Linked DNA regions of Homo sapiens. The protein of the gene in region 2 purifies or fractionates together with the protein of the main gene of each other region. This does not show direct contact. Each region holds a gene or a part of one and is shown on either strand. Other genes may lie near its edges.

Region 1 (17,123 bases), on a different chromosome or scaffold from region 2:
CTTAAGATAATGCCTATTTACTACGGAATAATGTATGTGGCATCTTTCATGTTATCCATATTATCTAGCACATAAGGAAGTTCAAAACAACTTGCATCATTTTTATCTCCTTCCTTCTTATAATCTCTTGCCTTCGATGGAGACTGGGTCAAATTACATTGTCCTGCATAAATGAAGATGCTGACAAACTGTTCTTCATAAAAACTGAAAAAAAGAGGACTAAAGGGATTATAACAGAAGTTTTTACTGGATCTGGAAAAAATAGTAAAATATAATATCAGAATTGCACAAAGGATAGAAAACAAAATACTTTATATTCCTGAAGAACATCCAGAAGACAATTTATAATTGCTCAGAAACTTACACCTGCAGACCACTGAACCAAATGGTTTTTAGTCCAATAATTACACAGGACTAAATATTCAGTGCCTTTTACTGGATGGCCAGTAGAAGAGGCCTGCCATTATATTTCATTAGTTTCTAAGGGTCCACATTTTTTTGCTGTTATCAACTTTCTCAGGTTGAAAGGTCTACATTTTTAAAACATTGTAATGCTTTGAAATCGGAATGTATCTTACAAACAATGGCAAGTCAGAATTAAATTGCAACATTTTTAACCTTAGTAACAGAAAAAAAATGGTGTGTCTTAACACTCAACAGCATCTTAAATTTGATAAAATATGTTACCCTTTAACACTTGTAAGGAGCCACCTGCAATTTAGGAACTGGTTGTGATTAACATGATGTGGTGGTACACAAAATAAACCAGTTCCACTTTGATTTGTCTTTTAAAGAACATAATCTAACTTCATATATTGAAATTCTATCTCCGGTATGTTACAACTGACTGATGTCCCTTTTTTTTTCTCATCTTCCCTTTTTTACCAGCATTAAAAAGCTCTGTATTTCACAGATTTGACCACATCATAGAATAAAATGTCTCTTCAAAACACAACATGGTATAGTATTCGTGCCTGCGGTAAGAGAAAAACCACAAAACACAGTAAAAGCTTGCACAGCATACACAAATGGTATAAACTGATGTTACTCTGATCCTTCACCCCAGCAGTCTTAAAGTATCTACCAGCTTTAAGAATATAAAAAAGAAAATCTTCTATCATATGTTCTCACTTATAAGTAGGAGCTAAACCTTGGGTACACATGGACATCAAGATGGGAACAGTAGACACTAGCGACTCCAAAAGGAGTGCAAGAGTGGGCAAGGGCTGAAAACTTCCTATTGGGTACTATGTTCACCATTTGAGTGATAAGATCAATAGAAGTCCAAATCTCAGCATCACACAATATACCCCTGTGACAAACCTGCACATATATCCCCTGAATCTAAAATAAAAATTATATTAATTTTTTTCATCATCTAACAATAAATTTTTTTTTTTTTTTTGAGATGGAGTCTCGCTCTGTCACCCAGGCTGGAGTGCAATGGCACAATCTTGGCTCACTGTAACCTACACCTCCCGGGTTAAAGAGATTCTCCTGCCTCAGCCTCCTGAGAAGCTGGGACTACAGGGATCCGCCACCACACCCGGTTAGTTTTTGTATTTTTTAGTAGAGACAGGTTTCGCCATATTGGCCAGGCTAGTCTCGAACTCCTGACCTTGTGATCTGCCCACCTTGGCCTCCCAAAATGCTGGGATTATAGGCGTGAGCCACTGTGCCCGGCCAACAATAAATTTTTTTAAGGCTAGTCAAACCTAACAACAAAATTTAAAAGTCAATCAGTAGTTCTAACTTTTTTTTTTTTTTTTTTGAGACAGAGTCTTGCCCTGTTGCCCAGGCTAGAATGCAAATGGCACAATCGTGGCTCAATGCAACCTCCGCCTCCCAGGTTCAAAAGATTCTGGTGCCTTAGCCTCCTATGCAGTTAGGACTGCAGGAGTGGGCCACCACACCTGGCTAATTTTTTGTACTTTAGTAAAGAGGGTTTTACCATGTTGCCCAGGCTGGTCTCACACTCCTGACCTCAGGCAATCTGCCCGCTTCAGCCTCTCAAAGAGCTAGGATTACAGGCGTGAGCCACAGCGCCCGGCCAGTTCACTCTTTCCTACCCACAATCATCTTCAACTTCCCATGACCAAGAACTAATGCTTGAAGTTAACATAATAACAAATCAGTAGAGAGGGGCACAGGGCCACCATGAGAAATAATAAATCAGAAAACACCTTATGCAATGAATTTATAACACTTTGGTGTAATCATCATCATTTTGCTACACACACGTTTAATAAGCAGAAACAGAAATATAATGACTCTCTTAAAACTATGGAACATCATATCAAATTCTTGCTATGAATTAGGAGAGGCTATATTCTCACAAAAAGGAAGAAAACATGAAAATGGGCTATACACAAAATAGCACCTTAAAAATGTATCTTCACATAAACTTTGTCTTTAAAATTACTCCCAATTTTTTTTTTTTAAAGAAAAACAGGCAGTATGATCAAGGATATATGGTAAAGGGTATTCCAAAACAATTGGGATGGAGTGCAATGTTTTTGGAAAGCAATTCAATAATTATTACTTTAAGCATTTATCCTAAGGAAGTATATTAAAATACAGTTCAAGAAAGCTCATTCATAATGATGTTTATGGTAATGGAAAAGTTCTAACTTAAATATACAAAATTGATAATAATATTAAATGATGATCATACAGTGAAATATTTGGCAGTCATTTCAAATGTTATAGAAACCCATGCAACATATGTGAAAATATTTTCACAATGTATTGAGTGAAAACAGCTGGCGGAAAAGGATATAATCCTTTTATGTTAAAAAAACAAAAACATACATCAAATGATGTACATCAAAGCTGGTTGTCTGGTAGGTGGGGACTAGATGATTTTAATTTTCTTCTAGTTTCTATACAGAGCATTACTTTTCTAATAAGATGAAATAAAAGAAATAGAAACACAGATTCTATCTTAACTGAATCAAATACATCCCTTTGATTATAGCATGGAAGCCATAAGGCTGTTACTGAACTTTCCAAATAAAATTTAATTTGCAAGAATCATGCATTACCTAACTAAGGAATTACTTCCAAAAGACTGTGATAACAGCATACAAGGAATATCATTTTACAAAGCTTATGAATCTATTACACTTCTTCTCTTAGTGATAAGAGTGTCAAATAGCTTTATGGTTCTTCCATTAAAACTTCTTTTGTGACAAAATACAAAAAAAAATGACATATAAAGTTCCTAGATCTACTTCATGTATAATCAGATAATTGCAATTTAAAAAAAAATATTTTTTCAGAGATAGGGTCTAGCCCTGTCACTGAGGTTGGAGTGCAGTGGCATGATCACAGCTCACTGGGGCCTTGAACTTCAGGGCTCAAGTAACCCTCTCACCTCAGCCTTCTCAGTAGCATGACATCACACCTGGCTAATTTTGGGGATGTAGGGGTGGTAAAGATGGGGGTCTATGTTGCCCAGACTGGTCTTGAGTTCCTGAGCCTCAGGTGATCCTCCCACCTTGGCGTCCCAAAGTGCTGGGATTATAGGCGCAAGCCACCACTTCTGACCAGATTTTTTTTTTTTTTTTGAGACGGAGTCTTGCTTTGTCGCCCAGGCTGAAGTGCAGTGGTGCGACCTCAGCTCACTGCAACCCCCACCTCCCGGGTTCAAGCGATTCTCCTGCCTCAGCCTTCCCAGTAGCTGGGATTACAGGCAACCGCCACCACGCCCAGCTAATTTTTTTTATATTTTTAGTAGGGACAGGGTTTCACCATGTTGGCCAGGCTGGTTTCGAACTCCTGACCTCAAGTGGTCCGCCCGCCTTGGCCTCCCAAAGTGCTAGGATTATAGGTGTGAACCACCGCACCTGGCCCCAGATAATTTTTTAATAGTCTCTCGTATTACTGAGTTTTTTCATATTATATATAAAGATTCTGTATTTGTTTGTTGTTTTCTGTTTTTTTTTTGAGAAGGAGTTTCGCTCTTGTTGCCCAGGCTGGAGTGCAATGGCGCGATCTCTGCTCACTGTAACCTCCGCCTCCTGGGCTCAAGCAATTCTTCTGCCTCAGCCTCCTGAGTAGCTGGGATTACAGGCGTGTGCCACCACTCCCGGATAATTTTCTTTTGTATTTTTAGTAGAAATGGGGTTTTACCATGTTGGTCAGGCTGGTCTCGAACTCCTGACCTCAACTGATCCACCTGCCTCGGCCTCCCAAAGTGCTGGGATTACAGGTGTGAGCTACTGTGCCTGGCCCGAAGATTTCATATTTATAAGAAGAGAGAATAATTCTCTTTAAACAAAAGTTTAAAATATCAGGAGAAAACATAATAAAAGCATCATTATGAAAGTATCTAAATACTTTCATTTTAAATTACAACTTACCATATAAGGAATATTCTGCTTCCTGACCTGTGTCACTCTCACTGGAAGTTGATGTGAGGCTGGTGGTTAAAGTGTTACTTAAAGATTGACCAACTGATAAAACTGTTGTTGCTGTAGCTACATTGCTGCTGCTAGTAACACTGGATGTTGACATAGTCACTGTTGATGTAGTACCAGGTGTGGTCAAATTAGGGAAACTCTGAGCACCCATAAGAGGAGAAGCTAAAGACAAAAATGAAGCAAATCAGTACAAATAGGTGAGATTGTAGAAACCTCAGAAAAACCAAGTTTTTTATTTTTTAAAGAGTGAGGTCATAAAACACACTAATAATAAAATGGTTCCTGAAAAGCAACAACTTTGGGAACCCAACTGAAATCCAACTAAAAATTCTTTTTATAGCACTATTATATAATTACTTTGACCTGTTAGCAGCTTAAATTGGAATTTAACTTTCAGAAGCTAAGATCAATGTAGAGTCTAAACAAAAGCTATACTTATATGATGCTTTGGTTTCACTGCACTATGATAATATTTAATAGTCATCTATTTCCTCATGCAACTTTGCTTAATGATGTATCATAAAGGAGTGAAAATCAGAAGTACTGTTTTATGCTTCTAAAATAAGAGGTTCTTTATCACACCTAGTCTGAATTCTGCAAATATTATGATTCTAGAGAACTTCATATTCCTGAACTGCTAAATTTGATGTAGCTTTATCTAACATGGTTAATGATCTAGTTAAAAACTGCAGCCAGAACAAGAGACCCTATTTTGCATCCCTCCAAGTGGAAAAAGCATCGGATTCCAGAAGGAAAAGCTCACTTACTTGCTGTGCTCATCACATTCCTCCCCAAAGTATTAGTGTTGTTATCACTGCTGCTTCGGCTTAGATTCATGTTGTTCGTGGCATTAGTCCGTGCTATGTTTGCCACTCTCCTTACAAAACTCTCCAAGCTAGATGTTTCTCTTGAGGACAGGTTAGGTACACTTGCACTAGAGCTCATAGGGGCCCCAGCAGCCAACAAAGAACTCACTGACAGTCTGTTACTTGCTGAAGAGCTAAGAGGTCGTTGTGAAGCTGCTTCTTTATTAGTTAATTCAGATACTGAACTAACATCAGGAGAACTAACACTGACAATTCCCATGGATATTGCACTAGACTCCCCAGGAGTACGAACAGAACTATCAGGGCCTAACTTCCTTTCAGCATTTTCACTTCCCGTTTCCGCTGTTAAGGTGCTGGTGCTTGCACTGGAAGATGACCCTACTTCTGTTTGAGGGACGTTTTCAGCAGATGAAAGAACAACAATTGGTTCATGGACATCAGCTCCTGAAACTATACTGTGTTCCATTACAATTTCTGATCTCCGTTCCGTTTTGGTCGAACCCAAGCTGATGTCGCTGCTACTGGCCACGCTACACACAGAACTGCTGCTTCCTTTTCTACTTGAGGAGCCTGCAGCAGCAGATGTCTTGTCTGGACAGTTGTTTTTCACCAAGCTGCTCCATGATTGCGTTGTGCCTGAAACAGTGGATGAAACAGGTTTGGGTGATGCCACTGTATCAGGGTCGTACCCTGGTGCAAGCTTGAGGTCAAATTTTCCTTCTGCGCCCATACGGTAAGAGTTTGAGCCACCAGCATCCCAGGTGACATCAATCCAGCCTGGAAAGGGACAGGAGTTTGTGAGACCCAGCAGAAAGCAGATAGGAGCGTGTCAGACAGTAGCTCCACAATATGGGATCAGCTTTTCATCAGTGCTGTCCTTTTCTGAATTTCTATAGTCAATCAAGGTCTGCCCACTAAAATATATGTAAATTTTTGGACTCAATTATTTGACGATATGACTAGCTATCTGAAAGTCTATATTATTTAACTCTCATGATACAAATATTTTAAGGACAAGAAATATGTACTCTATACAAGGTTTCCAGGAAATGTTTAAAATTCTTCCTTTTATTTCCCTTATTTCTGAACTATTCAGTCTATGACATTTAAAAGCAATGTAAGGGTCATGTTTAAATCTACTGGGTTATATTTCATTTTTAAAATTATTTGATTTTTAGAGATGAGGTCTTGCGTTGCCCATGCTAATCTTGAACTCCTGGGCTTAAACGATCCTCCCACCTCAGCCTCTGGAGTAGCTGGGATTATAGATGTGAGCCACTGCACCTGGCTTGGTTACTTCTTAAATGGAAGAACTGTTTAAGAAATTTTAAAAGATTGATATACATGGTAAAATACTGCCACTTCAGCAAGTAAACAGAATCTAGGTAAAAGTTTTAAAACTGCTAAATATAATTATGTGTAGTCAAATTTTTTTTCTACAAAAACATGCCAGCTTACCATTAATTTCTTACAATTTGGGCTAACCTCTCAAAATATTCATATATTGCCATAGAAATTTTAGTCACTAGTTCAAATAAAACACTAAAGTTAGCATTTCGGTTGTGTTCTCAAAGTTCAGTGGTTCCTTGGTTCTCTTATATTAAATAATTAAGTTCAATAAATTTGAATAAACACAGAAAATTCTAAAAAAAAATTTAAAGAGCATACTGAACTCTTTTATTAGAACTATCTGCTAAAGCTAATAACATGTACAGAATTAACGAGCATAATGATATTCAATCTATATATTTACTTGTAGTAGAAAAATGATATTCTTTTTTTAAAAAGGTAATTAACTTCCAAAAGCAAAAAAAAAATTGTCTATTAAAAGCAAATTAATAGAAATTTTACAATCTTATTTTAGTGTTATAAGCTAACTATTTCAGGGAAAAACATAAGACATAAAAAACATTTTTTTAGAAGTATAACAAGCCTTTATAAAGTTCTTACCCATACATAAAAGGGGCCCAAGATCACATACACACCCATCCACACACCCAGATGCTCACCCACACTTACACCAAGTTCATATGTTTATGATAGCACTCAGAGGGAAATAATATTGAATTACCTGTGGGGATTATCTGCATATGTGTTCTTTGAAAGGAAAAGTGACTGCCCCAAATCTACATAAGTAGCTTAGATGAGATTTTTCAATTGCCTCTATTTTTTTCTGTATGCTGAAATAATCTCTGAAGAACCAACATTTAACTATCTCTTCTGCTACACAGAAATGTGTGAGAAAAGGAAAAGTTTCAAAAACATAGCCCAATCTCAAATAAAAGTAACTTTTGTATTATATTAATTGGCCCAAAAAACATACTCTCTCAACTCCTTCTACACCCAAAAGATAAACCAAAAAAAAAAAAAAATAGAGTCAGTAATGACTATCCATCATTAGAAATGGTTGGTTTAAGTATTTGAAAGCTAAGAACCCTCTCTGACATAGAGACTCAAAGGCATAACTTGATGGGAATGGCCATGTTGATTAGGCAAAACTAAATTTCTACATTTGTCAGATTAGCAAAAATAGGCCTTTCTTGAACGCTAAACTCTGAGATTTCTAGGCTAGGTGATTTTTTTTTTTCCCATCTGTGGCAGCTAAAACGAACAAACAAACAAAAAACACTCAAAATATTCAGATGTACATGTTAGCACTCTCTCATAGGGAGGTGCCATACCTCACGGTTCAAATATATTTTATAGATCAGTAACATTATTATACTGACATGTAATTGCAACTTACTATGCAGCAAAAATGAATCGAGAAGAAAAATAACCCACAGTGTCTATTTACCTTTGTATAGGCAATTGCTTAAGTTACTCTGCTTTTAACATTTGTACTTCAATAAAATGCTTATGTATGTATAGGAATGTCACAGTGCAAGATGCTGCTAGTACAGGCACAAAGTATTAAAATTATTTTTTGAAGACTGGTGGTTGTATTAAAACTGTTGTGCCATTGTATCTTGGGAAAAAAAAAAAGATTCTAATTTCCCTATGCAATTGCTTCAGTTGACTCCATCCTGAGAAAAAAGAACTGCATTCACACATCTCTAACTAGCCTCTTCTTATCAAGTCACATACATCAAGGCCAAAACAATTACAGGAAATAGAATAACAACTTTTTAATAAGTATCATCAAGATGCCTAAAAAGAAAACTTGAAATTTTCTGAGTTGAATGGCACTACTATTCAACTCAGTATAACAATAATAGTTGATATCTCAACTATTACTGGTATTTATGAATTTTAGGTCGCTGTAAACCTGTTTTGATTACAATGATTTGCAATTAGGGCATGATACTACATAAATACATTTGGCAGTAAAATAATTCAAGGAATAGAATCTTAAAAGCAATATAGTCAAAGGGTTTATTTGAATAAATAAATGTCTTTACCACATAAAACATGAAATTAAATGTCAGTCATTCTCGTAAGTACCGTCACATTTATTCTAGCTCTTTAAATATGTGGTGTAAGTTGCCGCGTGCGGTGGCTCACGCCTGTAATCCCAGCTCTTTGGGAGGCCGAGGTGGGTGGATCACCTGAGGTCGGGAGTTCAAGACCAGCCTGACCAACATGGAGAAACCCCGTCTCTACTAAAAATACAAAATTAGCCAGGCATGGTGGCCCATGCCTATAATCCTAGCTAGTCAGGAGGCTGAGACAGTAGAATCGCTTGAACCTGGGAAGCAGAGGTTGCAGTGAGCTGATATTGCGCCATTGCACTCCAGCCTGGGCAACAAGAGCGAGACTCTGTCTCAAAAAAAAAAAAAAAAATACATATATATACACACACATATATGTGGATATATATATGTGGTGTAAGTTGAGAATATAAACATTTTTACTTTTTTTAATGCCAAAAACTGATACAAAATTGATGAAAACAAACCCACTGCCATTTAGGCAAATTATCTGCTAATAAGTCAGCCTTATAGTTTGAAGAAAATAATTAGCCACTATAATTGCTTTAAAGTTAATAGCAATTTATTAAGTGGATGACTTTGCTAAACTGTGCAGCATCAAAGAAACTTGATTCACATAGCAATATTTAGAAAACATGATAAACTCCTCCCCAAAAAGCAGGTAGGCTAAGAAACACTTTGAAATAATAATAATCTACTAACAGATAAAGAGACAATGTTTCTTGTTCCATGCATTATTAAAAAACAGTAAAAATGTTAATCCTTTTTCTTCTATATGATTTATGATACCATAAAAATTATGGTGTGAGACTAACAAGATAAAGAAAAACATAAGAAATTAAAATAAAACTCACAGTAAGCTTGAAAATAAACTAGGGGAAAAAACCGGAAGTGTGTCTTGAAGATACTCAACTTACACTAGGCTTGATCACTTCCAAAATACTACCAGTAAGTTTCTAGTCAAAACCCAAGAACTTAAAATTTTCCCTTATTTTCTTTACCTTTTTTCCATTTGTAATGTGGTATCAACAGTTCTTCTAAACAGTGCTCATACATTTATGCAATTTATAAATTATCTTAAAAGAAAAAATTTAACTACCCATTTTCTACACAAAAGTGCTGAGCACCTACTCACCATTGTGTAGTTCTCCTGTGACAGTGCCTTCTCCCTGTGGGCTGCCATCCTGATCTCGCCATTTCCAATCCAGGCCTCTGATAACACGAGCTCCTGGAACCATGTATTTCAGAACCTGGGAACGTACTAGACGTCTCTGCCGTCTAAGATTAGCTTCTGCTTCTTTAGCTGCTTTCCCTGTCAGGTAGAAATTGGAGAAATAAAAACCAAATCACTTTTTACAAAAGTAATTGTTTTAGTAAGTTAGAAAAGCCTCGTATCATCTCTTTACCTAGCTGATCTTCACATACTCCATTTACAGTGCCATAAAGTTCGAATCCAGATAATGAGAGGTAGTGTGTTTGTCCACTGGCATTTTTCCCCATCTGTTTAATTCTCACATGTCTCCACCCTTGTTTCTCATCCTTTGGTGGATCAAGAGGCCAAGTTGCAGTTGACCTGTTAATATGTTAGAGAAAAAATTATGTAATATTTTAAAAGATGAAAAAGAAATTCAAGATGGGAAAGATTTTTTATATAACAGAGACCTGTAGAAAAAATAAACTAACTTTCATATTAACTCAACAGTTCATTACAAGAATCAAGAAATCAAAGGAAAAAAAGTAGTCAAGAGAACAAGTTAAAAACGAAACATTTAAATGTACGCTATTGATTTGACTCATAACATTAATGATTTATGATTAATATAATTCAAAGATAAAAGACAAAATGCTGGGTGCAGTGGTGTTTGGGTGGCTGAGGTGAGGGGAATCACTTGAGCCCAGAAGTTAGAAAGCAGCCAACATAACAAGACCCCATTCTCCTTAAAAAAAAAAAAAGGATGGTTTACAAAGAGTAGGAGAAATTCTCTTATGATGGAAAAACGGACTTAAAAACATTTTTGCAAACTTTTAAATAACGTATTAATATTTTGTCTTTAAAGCATGAAAGGGGTGAAAACATCACCTATTAATCCTAATGTTAAGAAGCTCCTCTCATACCATATCAAATGCCAAAAGCAATTTGGGTACATAATCTACCCCCTGATATGTGCCAAAATGCATAAATAAAATTTAGTAGAACTAATTTTTTAGAAGTTACTGACTTGTCTTTTAAAAACTTATTCAATACATAAAATTTAAGGATAAAAATAAAAACATTTTAAGTCAGCCTTAATTCTATAACGAGCAATAGCCACTGCTAATATGTTGAACATTCCTAAGTATTATGTGATTATATGGAGAGTTTATGGAAAGTTTATTTCACTTGTTTCCATTAGTGGGCTGTGTGTGTATGCATAAATGTGTGTGTGTGTGTGTGTGTGTGTGTGTGTGTGTGTGTGTGTGTGTGTGCGCGCGTATGTATATACAGCTATATACCAATTTTTAAAATAAATATTCACAGCATCTCAGCCTTTTGGCTAAGATACAGTGTAAAATAGCTCGGCTTTCTATTATTTAAACTAAACCTTTTGACAAAGTTTTAGTAAAGTCAGTGTTTCAAAGTTTTAATGCCTAAAGTATCAAGTGATTTGTTTTTAGAAAGAAAATTTTGCTTCAATATTTCACAAGGAAGAGAGCTCTAGAGTATAAAATTATAAAAATAAACAAAGCTCTTTAGTGAGTTTTCCAATTTGCAAAGACTCCTCAACTAACCCTGGTTCATTGAGACTGCAGTCATCAACATGGGTATACAAAGAAGTCCAGTTCTGTCCATCTTTGGATACCTGGAAAACCCAATTTCTCAGTGCAGACCTTCCATAACCACGAGCATGACGAAGTGTATATGCTGATGGTATCACCCAGAGACCCAGATCTATGGCAAACCAGGCATTCTTATCATCATTGCTATGACAATTTAAAGCTGAATTATCACGACTTAGTATGTCTTCTAAGCGGCCATAAGGTAGATTTCTTCCTTCTGATGACGTTACTACTACAAGTCCATAGGCAGCTGGATTTACCCATTCATAAGCAGTTCTATACAAAAATAAAGAAAAATTAGCAAATAACAACGTTAAGATAATTGCATTTGCACAAGGTTTTAAATACAGAATTATATTAAGTACAATTCTAGAATTAGCAATTTAGACATTTTTTCCTCATAAAAAGTAATTTGGATAATCTTAACTTCTACCTACAAGTCAAAATTCCTTAAACCACAGAATATTCAGAGTGCTAACAATTTTATTCTACTTCCTAGAATTCTTTTACCAAGTGAATATGGTCACTCCAGCTTAAAGTAAAATGACTGACTTACTTTGCATTTGTTCCAATCCAGTAAATGATTCCATTTTCATCAAAATCATGCTGGTGCCGAAATATAAAATTTTGTCCTTCTCTTAATTTTCGAACAAAAACAAATGAAGATCGGTCAAAATCATACCACTGTTTTGCTACCTAAACCAAAGAAAATATGAAAGACAGTCACCTTAATAATGCTGTTTTCAAGCACGTTACCTACTTTTTTCCTATCTCTTTAATGTGAATTGTTTTCTTTTATTATAACAAATGCTCATTTAGGCCGGGTGCGGTGGTTCACGCCTGTAATCCCAGCACTTTGGGAGGCGGAGGTGGGTGGATCATGAGGTCAAGAGATGGAGACCACCCTGGCCAACATGGTGAAACCCCGTTTCTACTAAAAATACAAAAATTAGCCAGGCGTGGTGGCAGGTGCCTATAGTCCCAGCTACTTGGGAGGCTGAGGCAGGAGAATCACTTGAACCTGGGAGGCGGAGGTTGCAGTGAGCCGAGATTGTGCCACTGCACTCCAGCCTGGCAACAGAGCAAGACTCTGTCTCAAAACAAAACAACAACAACAACAAAAACAAAAAACAAATGCTCATTTAAAAATATAAAGAAAAATAAAAAGTCCCACAACCAAAGCACCTCACTATTAATAATCACAGAGTATTTCTTTAGTTTATTATTTCAATGGATAGGATAAAACAAATTCTTGATCATACTGTACAAAAACATTTTTCTGTTATCATTAGTCTTTATACATTTTTATGGCTATATGATACTCAAATTAATAGAAATAATTATCACACACATTTGTCAATTAAATTTAAATTTTTAATATGAATTATCTATTTAACATTAATTTATTGATTGGAATTAAGGTTTTTGTTTACTATTTCAATATTACAAAATTATAATAAACATCTTCATGTAGAAATCAGTTCTAAAATGGAATTACTGGGCCAAACTGTATTACCATAACTCTGGATATATACTTCCCAAATTATTGTCCTAAAAGGCTAAACCACAGCTCAGAATGCTTATTTCACCGTGCCCTTGCCAGAAACTCACCATTTTCAAAAGGTACTGTTCCAGAGATTCAACTGTAGCCAAAGGTTCCATCTTCAACATTCTGCCAGTCCTGTCAATCAATGCAGTTTCACCAGGTGCACGTTCCAACCGAAATCGTAATCTCCTTGTAAGTATCTACACAAAAACGATCAAAATACTCTGGAAAACGTCTTGGTTTCTGTCTCAGAATTGTAAAAAATGATATACCCTAAAACAACTGAGATTTGGATTTATTAACTATAAACATAATAGAACTATGAACAAATGTCTGTTTTCTATCAAAGATTCTTTTTTTTTTTCTTTTTTTCTGAGACGGAGTCTCACTCTGTTGCCCAGGCTGGAGTGCAGTGGCGCGATCTCGGTTCACTGCAAGCTTCACCTCCCGGGTTCATGCCATTCTCCTGCCTCAGCCTCCTGAGTAGCTGGGACTACAGGCGCCCACCACCACGCCCGGCTAATTTTTTGTATTTTTTAGTAGAGACGGGGTTTCACCTTGTTAGCCAGGATGGTCTTGATCTCCTGACCTCGTGATCCACCCTTCTTGGCCTCTCAAAGTGCTGGGATTACAGGCGTGAGCCACCACACCCGGCCTTTTTTTTTTTTTTTTTTTTTTTTTGAGATGGGAGTCTTGTTCCTGTTGCCCAGGCTAGAGTGCAGTGGAGTGATCTCGGTTTACTGCAACCTCTGCCTCCCGGCTTCAAGCAATTCTCCTACCTCAGCCTCCTGAGTAGTTGGGATTACAGGTGCGTGCCACCACGCCCGGCTACTTTTTGTATTTTTAGTAGAGATGGGTTTCACTATGTTGGCCAGGCTGGTCTCAAACTCCTGACCTCAGGTGACCCGCCTACCTTGGTCTCCCAAACTGCTGGGATTACAGGCGTGAGACACCACGCCCAGCCTATTAAACATTCTTTAGGCCAGGCACAGTGACTCAGACCTGTAATCCTAGCACTTCAGGAGTCTGAGGCAAGAGGATCAATTGCTTGTGCCTAGGAGTTCAAGACCGGCCTGGGCAACACAGTGAGACCTCATCTCTACATATTAAAACAAACAAACCAACAAAAAATTAGCCAGGCATGCATGCCTGTAGTCCCAGGTATTGGAGAGGCTAAGGCGGGAGGATCAGCTGAGCCTGGGACACGGAGAGTGCAGCGAGCTGAGATCACGACACTGCACTCCAGCCTGTGCAACAGAGCTAGACCCAGTCTTGAAAAGAAAAAAAGAAAAAAAAGAAAACAATCCAACAGGAAAGATTCTTTTATAAAAGGGACACTAAGTAAGTTACAGTGGCTATCAAGTAAAAGACAAACTTAACTTCCTAGAATTTCTAAACAACTTCTAAATATACACAGTTTAAATAAACTTACAAAACTTCTTAACTTCTAAATATACACAGTTTAAATAAACTTATAAAACTTCTTAATCAAAGTGACTTATAACTCACAATTTTCCAGGTAAGTTTTTGAAAAGTAGCTAATTAGCTTACTCCGCTAGAATATATTCTACAGGATAAGCATCCCTAATCTACAAATCTGGAATCTTGAAATGCTCCAAAATCTGAAACTTTCTGAGCACTGACATGATGCTCAAATGCTCACTGGAGCATTTCAGATTTTGGACTAGGAATGCTGAATCGGTAACAAATATTATAAAATCCAAAACACTTCTGGTTCCAAGCATTTTGGATAAGGAATACTCAACCTGTATAATCAAAGGCTAATAAACTTTAAAAGATGCAAAATAGTTTTTAATCCAATACATTTTAGTAAGCAACAAGCACAGGACTAGCAATTTTAGGTAGATTCATTTCTGTATAAATCTTAACTAATTCCTATAAAAACAATTAAAGATTTATATGTGCATTTCGGTAGTTTTAGACAGCAAAATTACCAGAGAGCACATTCCTGGCCTTCCTCTCTTTGGATCTTGCACAATCTCCTGAAGTGAAAAATGCATAATAAAAGGCATCGGTGCACTGTCTTTGAGACTTATCTCCAACTCATCCACTTACCAGGAATAAAGCTTAAAAACAATGGACCAAACAGTCCCCATTACTCCTGTTATTCTGTCTGAAACAAAACACAAAGTAGCCCTCCACATCTTTTACATATAGAATATCAGGTGCAACTACTGCACTGTAAAACTCCCTAAATAAGTACTCTAGTTTGGGAGTCTAGTGGCACTGATAACAGTATTGGGTTCTCAGAGGTATGGCAAGTTTTGTTAGCTTTGCATTGCTTTGGCATATATAGATCCTCAATCACTCATTAAAGGCTATTATTCAAAAGAAACTATTCCATGCAGTAGAATGCAGAACAGTTTAGATAAAGGCAAAATTCAAAGCAGAAGGCCTTGCTAGGAAACACTAAAAAACCCACAAAAAAAGTGATAAAGTTCTGGGCTAGGACATTAGTAAAATGTATTGTTTGTTTGCATCTAGATCCCAGCTACTAAAGAAAAGAATAATTGAATGAATGAGAATGTAAATAGGAAGTTACATATTATATACAGATATATATATATATATATCTGTATGGGGAGGAGGAGGGAAGGAAAAGAGGCTATGAAACCATGTGATTGATAGGAATAGTGAAGACTTGGGCAATCTGACTCTAACCACTGACATAAAGACCCGAAAAAAATTGTGCTTAAAATATCTTGACTTTTTTTCTTATGTTTACAATATAGTGATAAGGAAGGGACTTGCCATGGTCTGAATGTTTGTGTCCCCGCAAAATTCATGTGTTAAAACTTAATCCCCAGTGCAGTGGTGTTGGATGGTGGAACTTCTGGGGGGGCTCTGCCCTCATGAATGGGATTAGTGTCCTTATAAAAGAGGCCTGAGAGATCTTGTTCATCCCTTCTACAATGTGAGAACACAGTTAGAAGGTTCCATCTAAGAGGAATAGGCCCTCACGAGACACCAAATCTGCTAGCACCTTGATCTTGGACTTCCCAGCCACCAGAATTGTGAGCAATGAATTTCTGTTTATTAAGTTCGCAGGAATTTTGTTACAGCAGCCCAAATGGACTAAGACAGAACTGACTCATAATTGTAGAATAAGAGGAACCCTTTTCTCAGCTTTTTCCACTGATACCTTTTGCCACTTATGATCTACGAAATATAATGCTTTTAACAAATATTAAATGAATGCATCATTTTCCAGTGATTTGATCAAACAAAACAGACTTCAAGTCATTAAGATCAATCAAATGGCATATAAGCTAAAATCTTTAAAGATTAAGTAGAATCATTTTTATTTTAATCCGATGTGAAAGAAAATAATTTTTTTTAAAGAAAAGTGTCACACTGTTCCTAGATGCATTCAGCAATACTAGCTACTACATTTTTTATGGTTACCTGGAGGTTATATGTGGATCCTGGTGTATCATACAAATGGAGAGGTAGACGTTCAATAGATTCTAGTACAGCTATTAACTTTCGAATTAACGCAACTGCTGGTCGACTGCGAAGAAATAATTATTATTAAGAGGTTTTGTATAACTACATGTAAATGTTCATGCAGAAAATATGGTAATCAACTTCAATATATACCCCTACTTTTTCATGACTACAGTTTAATTTTTGTATTAGATTATGTCTGAGTAGAAATACTCTCACAACTCAATTTCCTTTACTTAAGAATAAAACATTTCATTTTTCTAATAAAAACTTAATTATATTTAAAGCAGATGTATGATTTATTTTTAAAGTTTAAATAATTTTACTGGATAATATTTGATAAATAAAAAAGAATATAAAGCAACAAAGTTTTGAAAAAATATTTGATGGCTAGGGTATCACAACATATACTTTCTCATTATTAGTGTAAACTGCAATGACACTTCCGGAAAACAATGTGAAAATTTGAATCAAGAACTTTCAAAAATCGTCTTGCAGAGCTGGGCAAGGTGGTATATGCTGGAGTCCCAGCTACAAGGGAAGCTGAGAAAAGAGAATTGCTTGAGCCCAGGAGTTTAAGGCTGTAGTGCAAAATTCTGGCACCCGTAAA
Region 2 (7,000 bases):
AATACAGTACCTTGATTATTATATATGCCACTCCTAAGCGTGTTGAATCATCATATTTTGTTGCCACCTGTAAAACCTGGAGCCACACTAAGCGCAGGTTAATGTCTCTTTTGTTTTTGCTTCTATAGCTCTTGTGTAATAGTTAAAAGCTGTGGCTCTTGTTTCAGTTCTTGGTTCAAATCCTAGGTCAATCACTTACTGTCTCTGTTCTTGTGCCGGTTGTCATATCTCCAAGTCATCTTCCTTAAAATGAGAAAGAATATATCTACTTTGTGAAAATAAAGAATAAATATATCTATATAACGTACTGAGAAAGAAAATAAATGTTAGCTATAATTTTAGCATTATATTAATAAAACGAGAGCATGAAGTTGTCACATTGATATGTATTATCTACCCCAACAAGAGTAAGCATAAAATTATCTTTGTTTGTATGTACCACAGCATTTTTGACAGTGCTAAGCATGTTAAATACCTATGTTAATGGATAATGGTAATTGACTGCATTAAAAAGTCATGGTAGAGTCTGCTTTGGCATATCAACATGTTCTAATGTCAAACTATAAAACTTAACAGGTTAGAATACCTGTGTGATGAAGTGTCACTTAATAGAGTCTGCTTTGGAATATGGACATGTTCTAATGTCAGATTATAAAACTTTACAGGTTAGAATACCTGTGTGATAAAGTGTCAATGGATAATGCAGTAGCTTTCATGATGGGATACTTCATAGTTAGTGGATTTTCACTGTTTGCTTATTTAATATATATTGAGTACTCATGTGCCCTGCACCCCATGTTAATGACAAAGCTAGGCCTCAAATGTCTTTATTCCTCAGCGTAATGATCGATCTCACAAAGCTCTTGTGAAATCAGTTGGGAAAAGACTATGTACAGTGAATATTGACAACTAGGCAAAAACTGAATCTAGTCCACTTGTGAGAATTTCTTATTTCTATATACTGTGCTTATAGAATCTCCTTTCTTAAATCGAATATAAAATGTATGGTTTCATTTCAGTGTAGGTTTGAAAGTAAATATCTGTCCAGATTTAATGAACTCATATTTTAACAGAGTCGAGAGAAAGAACTTATGGGTTTCAGCAAATCGGTAAATGAAGCACGTTCAAAGATGGATGTAGCCCAGTCAGAACTTGATATCTATCTCAGTCGTCATAATACTGCAGTGTCTCAATTAACTAAGGCTAAGGAAGCTCTAATTGCAGCTTCTGAGACTCTCAAAGAAAGGAAAGCTGCAATCAGAGATATAGAAGGAAAACTCCCTCAAACTGAACAAGAATTAAAGGAGGTAAATCTTTGCTTCTCTGTTGCATCAGAACATCATTCGTCCACTTCAGCTTTATACATTTTTGTTTTTAATCTCCGCGTCAGAGGTGACTAGTGATAAATTTTCTTCATTTTGTATAATCTCAAAAGAATGAGGTCAGCATTTCAGTATTCCATATGTGAACTGAGACTATCAAGAAACTATATTATCCCCAGAAGCACCATATAGTAAGTAAATCACCACCACCACCCCACTGTAGAAATAATTTAAACAAAAGAAAGTTTGTGTTTCTTTAAATCTTAAGTATAGACAATTTAAAGATAAATAAAAAACAAGTGTATATGTATTTATATAATGAATATACAAACAACTATCTTAATGTGTTTTGGGTTTTGAATTTATGGATGTAGTTTCTTTGCTTGCATTCCAAAATGTTATAAACTAACTAAGATGTATAGCTTATCGGTGCCTGTCCCCCATCCTTGAGTGAATTAGATGTCTAAGGAATTTCGTAAACTTTAATCTCCAAAGATCTCCAAAACCTCAGTAGGCAAGGTGGCAATAAAAAAAAAATCTGTTTGAAGTGTAATTATACTGAAAATAAATATGAGTCTTTTTCATTTTAGTTAATGCATGCTATTTGGTCATCAGGGAATTTCATGACCAGGTAGAATTTAAATGTAAATTAAGTTAGATCCAGTGACTGCTTCTGTCTTCCTGGGATTCGGTTTCTTTTGGGATGAATTATGTCAGTAACTTGGTTTAAACTTTATGCCAGTACAGTAAGTAATAGACATAATTTAAATCTAGTGGATGGAGGAATATACCAGTTAGAAAAGATGGCTGCTGAGAAGTTGGAGATTGAGAAACAGAGGTTGTGTTTATGTGTGCATGTTTGTGGTTCCTTTCTTGTTGGGAGCCTGGCATTTTTGTATAGCAATAGGACTATCCAGTCATCTTTCGTTTCAGAGGTGTGCTTTTTCTCCAGTACCCCCCAGCCCCGTTCAGCTAAAATAAAGCACAGCATAACCGTAGTCCTGCCCAGTCATTTTCTGGGTCAGCTTTTCATTAGGGCAGAGCTGAAGAATTAGGGCACACTTATGTATAACTATGTAGTATCAAACTGGGATTTCCACAGCCCCAGCTATACTTCTCTATCAGGATGAACTGTTTGCTCCTGAAAAAAATATTACACCTAATGTTTTCTTTTATTGACCCAAGTAATTTATGCCCCTTTTAAACCCATCCATATTTTCCACAACCAAACCAGCAATTGCCATACAGGTGCTCAGTTTTGGTTCAAATTTTTATTGTTGGTCTTTCTTTCTTTATTGTTATTAAAGCATTACAACTAATTCAGTGCTATGACTGGTCATATTTAGAAGTTAATGCTTCTGGATTTCATTTTATTTTCACTTTTAGAAAGAAAAAGAACTTCAAAAACTTACACAAGAAGAAACAAACTTTAAAAGTTTGGTTCATGATCTCTTTCAAAAAGTTGAAGAAGCAAAGAGCTCATTAGCAATGAATCGAAGTAGGGGGAAAGTCCTTGATGCAATAATTCAAGAAAAAAAATCTGGCAGGATTCCAGGAATATATGGAAGATTGGTAAAGTAGATTTTTGGGGGGCATGGCTTTACTTTTTTTTTTTAAGAAAGTGTAACTTATTTTTTTGCCTTGACAACCATATTTCAAGTGTCACTGTATATAAAATAAGATTCATTTTGTTTGTTTTAAGGCACATTTATTTTTAAACATTTTGCCCTTACAGTTTCTTGTTTACTTAGCTTTAGATAAATACAATTATTTCATACATATCAAGAAAAATACTAGTAATGTCACACAAACTTAAAACCATTTTATCCTTTTTTTTAAAAGAGAGACTTTAGCCAGGCACAATGGTGTGTGCCTGTAGTCCCAGCTGTTGGAGAGGCAGAGGCAGAAGGATCACTTGAGCCTAGGAGTTCAAGTCCATCCTGGGCAATATAGCAAGACTGTTTTTTAAAAAATGAAAATTAAAAAAAATTTTTTTATATATTTGGGGTTTCACACCATTTTACTTAGGTTTGGGCTAGCATTTAAGGATATAACAAGGGATAATCTAAAAATCCAAGGCTAGCAATAGTGAGGACCATTACTGCTTCTTAGCTTCGAGGGAAGGGAGTTGTGGTCCAGAGGAGATGGGGAAAATGGATACCTTAACCCCACCTATTTCCTGCCCTCCAGTCTTAGCTGAAACCTCAAATTGGCTGAAGGTGGAGAGTCAAAGGAGCCAGTTGATGCAGTCCTTAAGTCAGCCTTTCGGAGAAGGGAACAAATTGATGTAAAAATTACCCAACATGATTGCTTCTGCATCTTGTATCGGGACTTCCACCTTATTTTCTTAAAGATAAACAGTTTGATCCTATTCATTTGCTCTCAAAGAAAGCCCAAACCAGTGAATACTGCTAGATAGTTGTGTAATAGATAAACAGATAAATGTGTTTCATCAGGATTTACATAATTTTAGATGCTTTTCAATAATTCAAAGTTTTCTGAGTTTTGCTTATAGTTCATTTAGGTTTTAAGCTTCATGTTGTTTTCATAAAATGAAAACAGTTCTTTCATTTTGTGCTCATTAGAAATTCAAGCTGCATATTCATAAACTTATACATATTTTGTATTTTGTTGTGTACCCTTTTGTTCTCTTTAAAACCATGTCTACATAAAGTTTTTCAATTAAAAGAAGTTTTTAAAACTTGATGAATGAAATGGTCCTGTGCTTTTCTGCCTAACTCTTTTTTCACCCCACTCTTCATTATTAGGGGGACTTAGGAGCCATTGATGAAAAATACGACGTGGCTATATCATCCTGTTGTCATGCACTGGACTACATTGTTGTTGATTCTATTGATATAGCCCAAGAATGTGTAAACTTCCTTAAAAGACAAAATATTGGAGTTGCAACCTTTATAGGTTTAGATAAGGTGGGTATTCGTAATAACCTACCTATAATTGGAATTTTTTTTTTTTGAGACGTAGTCTCGCTCTGTCACCCAGGCTGGAGTGCAGTGGCATGATCTTGGCTCACTGCAAGCTCCGCCTCCCGGGTTCACACCATTCTCCTGCCTCAGCCTCCCGAGTATCTGGTACTACAGGTGCCCGCCACCACACCCAGCTAATTTTTTTGTATTTTCAGTAGAGAGGGGTTTCACTGTGTTAGCCAGGATGGTCTGGATCTCCTGACCTTGTGATCCGCCCACCTCGGCCTCCCAGAGTGCTGGGATTACAGGCGTGAGCCACCACACCCAGCCCTATAATTGAATTTTTAAGTGCTAAGTGTGTTTTTCTTTTTGGATTCAGGCTTTTTCTTAATGGTTACTCAGTGAACACCTGATGGGTTTTGACGATTATTTTATGTTCTGGGGTTATATGATTATAAAAAATTGTTTGACATTTGCAGTGCCTCCACTAAAGGAATGTACATTCCAGAGTTAAAAGGAAAACCTTTATTGAGATAATTTACCTACAATAAAATTTATCATTTTAGGCCAGGTGCGGTGGCTCATGCCTGTAATCCCAGCACTTTGGGAGGCCAAGGCGGGCGGATCACGAGGTCAGGAGTTTGAGACCAGCCTGGCCAACATGGCGAAATCCCATCTCTACTAAAAATACAAAAATTAGCTAGGCATGGTAGCAGGCGCCTGTAATCTCAGCTACTCGGGAGGCTGAAGCAGGAGAATTGCCTAAACCTGGGAGGTGGAGGTTGCAGTGAACCTAGATTGCGCCACTGCACTCCAGTCTGGGTGACAGAGTGAGACTCAAAAACAACAAACAAAACAATCATTTTAAAGTATGTAATTTGGTGGGTATTAGTATATTCACAGTGTTGTTCACCCATGACCACTATCTAATTCCAAGATATTTTTATCACTCCCAGAAAGAAACCCCATAGACAGTAACAGTCGCTCCCTATACCCCTTCACCCCCTCCGTAACACTAACTACTTTTTTGTTTCTGTAGATTTATCTACATATAAATGGAATCATACAATATATGGCCTTTTTATACAGCTACATTTACTTAGCAGGTTTTCAGGTTCATCTATGTTGTAGCATGTATCAGTACTTCATTCCCTTTTATTGCCAAATGGTATTCTGTTACATCATTTTGTATAACCATTTGTCAGTTGATGGACATTTGTGTTTTCACTTTTTGTGCTTTGGCAATACTTGTGCTACGAACATTTGTGTACAAGTTTTTGAGTGAACATGTATTTTCAGTTCTCTTGGGTATATATATACCTAGGGTAGAACTGCTGGGTCATGTGGTAATTCTATGTTTAACTTTTTGAAGAACTGTCAAGATTGTTTCCACAGTGGCTGTACCATTTCCCACAAGCATGTGTAAGGGTTCCAGTTTCTTTACATCCTCGTTAACACTTGTTATGGTACATCTTTTTGATTATAGTCATCTTAGTGAATATGAAGTGGTATCTCATGGTTTTGATTAGGATTTTCCTGGTGATTTATGATAGTAAAAGTCCTTTCATGTCCTTGGCCATTTGTTATCTTCCTTGGAGAAATGTCTGTTTCAAATCCTTTGCCCATTTTTTAATTGGTTTCTCTTTGTTGAGTTGTAGGATTTCTCTATTCTGAATACAAGTCTCTTGTGAGATATGATTTACAGATATTTTACCCCATTCCTTGGATTGTATTTTCACTTTCTTGATGGTATCCTTTGAGGCACAATTTATCTTTTTTTTCCTTTGGTTGCTTGTGTTTTGGGTATCATACCCAAGAAACCACTGCCTAATCCAAGGTCACAGTGATTTGCCTCCTTTGTTTTCTTCTAAAAGTTCTATAGTTTTGGCTTTATATTTAGGTTTTAATCTATTTTGAGTTAATTTTATCACGTGATATAAAGTAGGGCTCAAACTACTCTTTCCATGTGGCTATCCAGTTATTCCAACACCATTTGTTGAAAAGATTCTTTACCCCATTGAATTTTCTTGGCATCCTTGTTGAAACCACCCAACCATTAATGTAAAGGTTTATTTCTGGGCTTTCAGTTTTATTACTTGTGCTGGTATAGGACACTGTCTTGATTATTGCAGCATTGTAATAAGTTTTAAAATCAGGAAGTCTGAGTCCTCTAATTTTGTTCTTTATCATATTGACTGTTCTGGGTCCCTATAATTTGTATATATGACTTTTAAGATCCAGATGGTCAATTACTGCCACAAAAAAAGGCGAGGAAGTAACTGGGATTTTGATACAGGTTGTATTGAATTTGTAGATCAGTTTAGATAGTATAGGCATCTTAACGGTATTAAATCTTTAGAACCACAAACATGAGATGTCTTCCGTTTAGGTCTAATTTTAGAACCTTTTGTGTATAATTCTTGTTTCTTTTGTTGAATTTATTCCTATGGGTTTTTTTTTGTTTTTTTTTTTGAGTTTTCTTTTTTGTTAACTGTTGTTTTTGTTTGTTTGTTTGTTTACTTTTAGATGGCTGTATGGGCGAAAAAGATGACCGAAATTCAAACTCCTGAAAATACTCCTCGTTTATTTGATTTAGTAAAAGTAAAAGATGAGAAAATTCGCCAAGCTTTTTATTTTGCTTTACGAGATACCTTAGTAGCTGACAACTTGGATCAAGCCACAAGAGTAGCATATCAAAAAGATAGAAGATGGAGAGTGGTAACTTTACAGGGACAAATCATAGAACAGTCA

Evidence for each region.
Region 1: the proteins of SMC4 (region 2) and HECTD1 purify together in Homo sapiens (affinity purification with western blotting; 3 studies listed by BioGRID, with this or other methods). This does not show direct contact.

What each region holds. Positions count from the first base shown.
Region 1 is NC_000014.9:31,123,421-31,140,543, forward strand, and holds part of HECTD1 (E3 ubiquitin-protein ligase HECTD1), read right to left. Parts: intron 16,578-17,123; coding exon 16,472-16,577; intron 13,246-16,471; coding exon 13,111-13,245; intron 12,196-13,110; coding exon 12,056-12,195; intron 11,776-12,055; coding exon 11,452-11,775; intron 10,256-11,451; coding exon 10,089-10,255; intron 9,995-10,088; coding exon 9,818-9,994; intron 6,029-9,817; coding exon 5,192-6,028; intron 4,587-5,191; coding exon 4,365-4,586; intron 205-4,364; exon of another isoform or gene 96-204; intron 1-95. UniProt on the Homo sapiens protein: E3 ubiquitin-protein ligase which accepts ubiquitin from an E2 ubiquitin-conjugating enzyme in the form of a thioester and then directly transfers the ubiquitin to targeted substrates.
Region 2 is NC_000003.12:160,416,650-160,423,649, forward strand, and holds part of SMC4 (structural maintenance of chromosomes protein 4), read left to right. Parts: intron 1-1,073; coding exon 1,074-1,307; intron 1,308-2,708; coding exon 2,709-2,894; intron 2,895-4,090; coding exon 4,091-4,252; intron 4,253-6,775; coding exon 6,776-7,000. UniProt on the Homo sapiens protein: Central component of the condensin complex, a complex required for conversion of interphase chromatin into mitotic-like condense chromosomes.